Regions from separate parts of the Homo sapiens genome. Here region 2 is linked to region 1. Evidence: fine-mapped expression QTL. A gene starts in region 1. The other region holds a variant in brackets. All regions are shown on one strand. Distances are from middle to middle. Region 1 holds the start of CWC25 (CWC25 spliceosome associated protein). Region 2 overlaps PIP4K2B (phosphatidylinositol-5-phosphate 4-kinase type 2 beta).

Evidence for each region.
Region 2: its variant is fine-mapped to the expression of CWC25 in lung (TOPMed, PIP above 0.99).

Annotation. Positions count from the first base shown.
Region 1 is chr17:38,823,807-38,826,593 of GRCh38, reverse strand. CWC25 (CWC25 spliceosome associated protein) reads left to right here and starts at 1,273. Exons shown (of 10, transcript NM_017748.5): 1 at 1,273-1,428. The coding sequence starts at 1,411. MIR4727 (microRNA 4727) reads right to left here and starts at 756; the gene lies at 702-756. RefSeq lists an enhancer at 1,934-2,565.
Region 2 is chr17:38,796,024-38,798,810 of GRCh38, reverse strand. All of the region lies in intron 1 of PIP4K2B (phosphatidylinositol-5-phosphate 4-kinase type 2 beta), which reads left to right. Among named protein-coding and RNA genes, the nearest start is that of PIP4K2B, 2.1 kb to the left of the region's middle. RefSeq lists an enhancer at 1-78. The variant A/G (reference allele first, on the strand shown) is at 1,063.

The DNA of each region.
Region 1 (2,787 bases):
CGCTTGAACCCAGGAGGCGGAGGTTGCAGTGAGCTGGTATTGCGCCACTGTACTCCAGCCTGGGCAACAGAGTGAGATTCCGTCTCGAAATAAATAAATAAATAAATAAATAAATAAATAAATAAATAAATAAATAAATAAATAAAATAGCATCACAAAAAATACAACATTTAGAATAAATTTAACAAAAGATGTGCAAAACTTCTATTCTGAAAATTACAAAACAGGTCGGGCGCAGTGGCTCACACCTGTAATCCCAGCACTTTAGGAGGCCGAGGTAGGAGGATTGCTTGAGTCCAGGAGTTTGAGACAAGCCTGGGTAAGATGGCAAAACCCTGTTGCTACAAAAATAAAAATAGCCAGGCGCGGTGGCTTATGTCTGTAATCCCAACACTTTGGGAGGCTGAGGCGGGGAGATCACTTGAGGTCGAAATTCGAGACAAGCCTGAGCAACATGGTGAAACCCTGTCTCTACAAAAAATACAAAAATTAGCCGGGCGGGTGGCGGGCGCCTGTAATCCCAGCGACTTGGGAGGCTGAGGCAGGAGAATTGCTGTCCGGGAGGCGGAGGTTGCAGTCAGCTTCGACCGCAGCCTGGGAGAGCAAAACTCCTTCTCAAAAAACAAAAACAAAGGGAGAAGAAGAAAAAGAAAAAGAAAAAAGAAAAACATGCCAAAAACACATAGTAACTGAAGGGAAAGGAATCTGCCAGCTTCCCACTATGGGAAAATCTGCCACTGTGGAAGCTGGCAGATTTTAAAAGTTTGGCAAACGGAAGCTGATGGAATTTCGATTTGATGGTTTCTATTTAGCTTCGTAAAATAGGCCTGGCATAAGGGGATTTGCTGTGAGTCAAGGTCTGAGGAAAGCGCCAGTTTGCAAAGCCGTTTTGGAAAACTGGAGCGTGGGGGTGTGTGCAGGGTGAGGGGAGGAGGCCTAGTCTGGTCCACCTTAGGTCTAGCAGAGACTACGTGGAGCTTTGAGCCGAATGCCCTGGTGAGCTGCCATGGCAACACAGCCGTGGGCACAGGCCCACGGCAACCCATCACTGAACAGAGTTGTGGCGTTTCAACAGAGAGTCTGGGACATCAGGCAACGTGGCGACCCGAAGCAGCCAAAATGAGACCTCGACAGCAAAGGCCTCGACAGCGGAGCCCGGACCTTTGCAAAATCTGCAAGTAACGCCAACGTCACAAAGCGCGACCGAGCCCTGTACGTCATCGTTCCGCGACGCCGACGCGGTGAGATGACGCCCTCCCGGAAGTGACCTCTAGAGCGGTGGTGAAACTGGCAGTTGACGGCTCCTGGGACTAGATCCCGCGAGGTAGCCCCCGAACTATTTCTCTACGTTTTCTCTTGATCCTCCCGAAATCTTCCAGATCCGCGTAGTGAGGAATCGTCTCCACCGTCATGGGGGGCGGAGACCTGGTGAGTGGAGGGAGGCCTGGGCGGGGGAGGACTGAGGCCGGGACGGAAATTGGCAGGGGGTGGGGGTAGAGGAAGGAGTGGATAACCATGGCAACGCAGCTTTGCTTTCGCCGGGAGGAGGCCGTTGCCCTGAAGAGGGGATGGATCCTTAGGGCAATGGAGGGGTGGGACTGAGATTTGGGAAAGTCCGAGGTGTGTCGCGAACAGTGACAGGTGGTGTTTGCGTGTTTGTTGACTGCGGCTCTACCGGCTGTAAATTCTGGGAAGACCGGGGAGGGGGCGGATGGAGCCATGGCTAGGAAAGGAGGTAGATATGGAGGACGTGTCACCACACTTTGTTTTGTATATCTTGTCTTGCCACACACCTCTCTTCCTTGGGTGAGAGTTCAGAGTCATGTCCTGGACTGAAGTAGGGGTGGTTTGTGCCCCATTCTCCCTACCCTAAGCCATGCCCTGGGGTCGTTTTTTATTTTTTATTTTTTTGAGACGGAGTTTCTTGTTGCCCAGGCTGGAGTGCCATGGCGCGATCTCGGCTGACCGCAACCTTTCCCTCCTGGGTTCAAGCGATTCTCCTGCCTCAGCCTCCCGAGTAGCTGGGATTACAGGCATGCGCCACCACACCCGGCTAATTTTGTATTTTTAGTAGAGACAGGGTTTCTCCATGTTGGTCAGGCTGGTCTCGATCTGCCGACCTCAAGTGATCCGCCCGCCTCGGCCTCCCAGAGTGCTAGGATTACAAGGGTTAGCCACAGCGCCCGGCCCTGGGGTCCTTTTTAAGCCTGAAGGGATCTTCCTGTCCATCTTTCTGACTTCCACACCTCCTTCAGTGCTGGATTCTGATCTGTAGTGGCAGAGCTTGCTTTTGAATTCATACCACTTAATATAAGTTATGTGGCAATGTCTCTTAAACTGAAACGTTCATTTGTAAAGCGCTAAGGCCCCAAATAGGGTAAATGTACCCACAAGAGCATGGGGCAAGGTTGGGAAAATGCTAGCCTCCGGAAAGTGGAGCTAATTGAACCAGCAAGTAGATCAGCTTAGCCGCCTGCCCAGTAAACCTATTAGTTTGTCATGTGTTCTCAATCACAGTGAGTGCCAGGACTCCATCTAGTTTCATCCAATTTAGTGTATTCTTCACATAACTGCATTTAAGGACAGGAAAGCTCTAATCCAGGGTTTCTCAACATTAGCGCTCTTGACAGTTTGGCCTAGATAATTCTTTGGGGGTGTGTGGTAGTGGTGGTAGTTGGGCTGTCCTGTGCATTGTAGAATGTTTAGCAGCATCACTGGCCTCTAGCCACTAGACTGGAGCTATCCACTAACACCCGTCTCCACCAGTTGTGACAGCCAAAAATGACT
Region 2 (2,787 bases), 28 kb after region 1:
TGTGGCTGCTCAAATTCTTCCATCCTCCAGGCCTCCTTACCTTTGAATGTAGAACTCCACCCTGGGTTTCCTTTTTTTTCCCTCTTGAACAAGATGTATCAACTGGAGAAGCACAGGCTTCCTTGAACCAGACACTTCACCTGGGTCTCTCTGGGTTAGGGAGAAGAAAGAATGGCTATTAACCATTTGAGAGAAGAGGATGCCTGGTTATAAGGAGGGACTATTCATAGTAGAAATAATATGTCTTCCCATAGTTTTTGAAGGTGATCATTTTAAAGATGTTGACTTATCTGTTGTGTGGCTGCAATGTTGTGATGATGCATAGTGATTATGGTCCTAGATAGGAGAGATAGGTCCCCTGGGTCCTTAGGGTGCTTTGAGATTGTTCAACAGCCCCTGCCAGGAAGTTGGATCCTGACAGTTTAAGCTGGAAGACTGTTTATGTGGTGTTTGTTCAGGGTCTTTATTCTCCCTCTTCCAACCACTTGCTCTTTGCCTTCTGACCATTTCTTTATGAATCCCCACACTAGGAATGAGCAGAGGAAGTAAAAGGACCCGAAACACCAACTTCACTAACTAGAATTTTGGAATAAGGAGGATCAAGCTTGGGTTTCCTGTGGATTTCAGTTCTTTAGGTTCACTTGTGAGTGCTTGAAATTGCTCACAAGACCAAGCGATGACAAAGAGGGCCAGCAAGACTTTGCATTGCTTTGGCAGAGGAGCTGAAGGTGCCTTTGGGTGGAGATCGATGAACCGTAATCTGAGCTAGGGTTTTAGATCTTGACCTGTCATTTAGGAAAGTGCATGTGTAAATTGAGGTCTCTGTGGTTTCTTGGTCTTGGGCAGGTTACTGTTTTCACTGTCATCACTGGTGTTAGTGAGGGTCCTGCCAGGATAGCGAGTACCAGTGGTATAATGCCCAGACCTCTAGGAGCTGCTTCGGGCCAACAATCCAGCCCAGTTTGTTACTCGGTCTTCCTGCTGTCCCAGGGGTCATCTGACAACATTTCTAGGGAAACTGGGTGATCAGAATATGAACCCCATGTCCCTTTCTGGAAGTCA[A/G]TCCTTGATTTTGTTCTGCATCCTGCTTCTCACTCTACCAGGCCTCTCTCTGCTGGTTCTGTTTCTCACAGAAAGCAACCTGTCTGTAGAGAACTGGTAGAGGCCTGAGAGTCAGGAGTATTACAGCTAGCTGCAATGAACCTTGGGTCCCTTATTTTACACATGAAGAAAAGGAGGCCTCAGGTGGAGGATTAGCTTGCCTGTGGTTACAGCAAGAGATGTCGCTTATTGTCTAGCACCATGGGACTGTATCGGCCAAGGGTGGTGCCTGAGTGGCTGGTCTTGTTTTCTTTGCCTCCTGTTTCTTTTCCTCTCCCTCAGCCAAGTCTCAGGATAGATGCGAAGTATAGTCCGGTTAGAGAAGGTGAATATATGCTCTGGGTTATACGCCTATGCATGTCAGGTCCTGGGAGTGTGTGTGATGCATGGTGTTCCGATAGGCAGGCATGAGTCTGTCCATATGTGGTTATGAAGTTTCTCAATAGCTGATGGTTAGGTATCACGAGTCAGGAGTCCTGTGAGTCCTACTCTGTTGGACAAAGTGGTCATCTTTTTTCTTTGCTAACTTTAAGTTGAAAGTTTGTTTGAGGGGCTAGTTGGAAAGGCATTGACTTTAAGCAAGATCCGTGCCTCTGGACATAATGAACAGGCATCTCATGGGAACTTCCCACCACTGCCCTGGACAGGCTAAGCTTCAGAGGCCAGTTAGTCGTAAGTTTTATTGCTTCATCCTGGTCTGCAGTAAGGTCTGATACTTCAGTGTCCCCATTTGGGAACTGAGACATCTGCCTAGAAGAAGAGTGTAATCTTGCACTCGTCTAAGGGATCAGGACCACATTGCCCTCGGTGGACTGCTGCACTTTTTTGGAGATTTCCTCCCTTCAAAAAAAGCCTACTTTGTAACATTTTGTCATCTGAGATTTCAGATACCACCTTTTCTTTAGTTTCTCACCTGTTTAGGCATTTAGGCATGCTGGTCTGTGGCTAATGGTGTTTCAGATAGGAAGGATGGATATGTCTTTATCTACAGCAGAAGTTAGTTACCCTTTCATGAGGTGATTAGTTTACTTCTAGGTGGAAAAAGAGAGGACTTTGAACTTGGTGTTGTCACAGGAGCTGCTCTCATGGACAAGAGCCCATGGATTTTGTGGAGGAAGAATGTGTAGGAAACAAGGAGAAAAATCAGAAGACTTTGCACCTGTCAGGGAAGAACTAGTGAAGAGCAAAAACCAGTGTTTTAGTGGATGAAATACAGTTCCGAGGGTTTGGAATTAGGGAAGAGATGGCCTCAGAGAGGAGCATGGAGACCATGGGAGGTAGACCTGACTTGATACTTGTTGGCCATTTTAAGAACCAGGTATGTGTGAAGCCTTACCACAGGGATCAGAGGAGCAGGAGCAGTTGATGGTGACTCTGTATTTAACCATTTGAGAAACTGCCAAACTGTTCTCTAAAGTGGCTGTACCATTTTACATGTCTACCAGCAGTGTATAAGAGTTCCAGTATCTGCATCCTTGTCAACACTTGTTATTGTCTTTTTAAAGTTATTAAAGCCATTCTGTTGGGTGTGAATTCGTATCTCATTGTGATTTTGTTTGTTTGTTTGTTTTTGTGATGGAGTCTCACTCCGTCACCCAGGCTGGAGTGCAGTGGTGCAATCTCGGCTCACCGCAACCTCCACCTCCCGGGTTCAAGCAATTCTCCTGCTTCAGCCTCCTCAGTAGC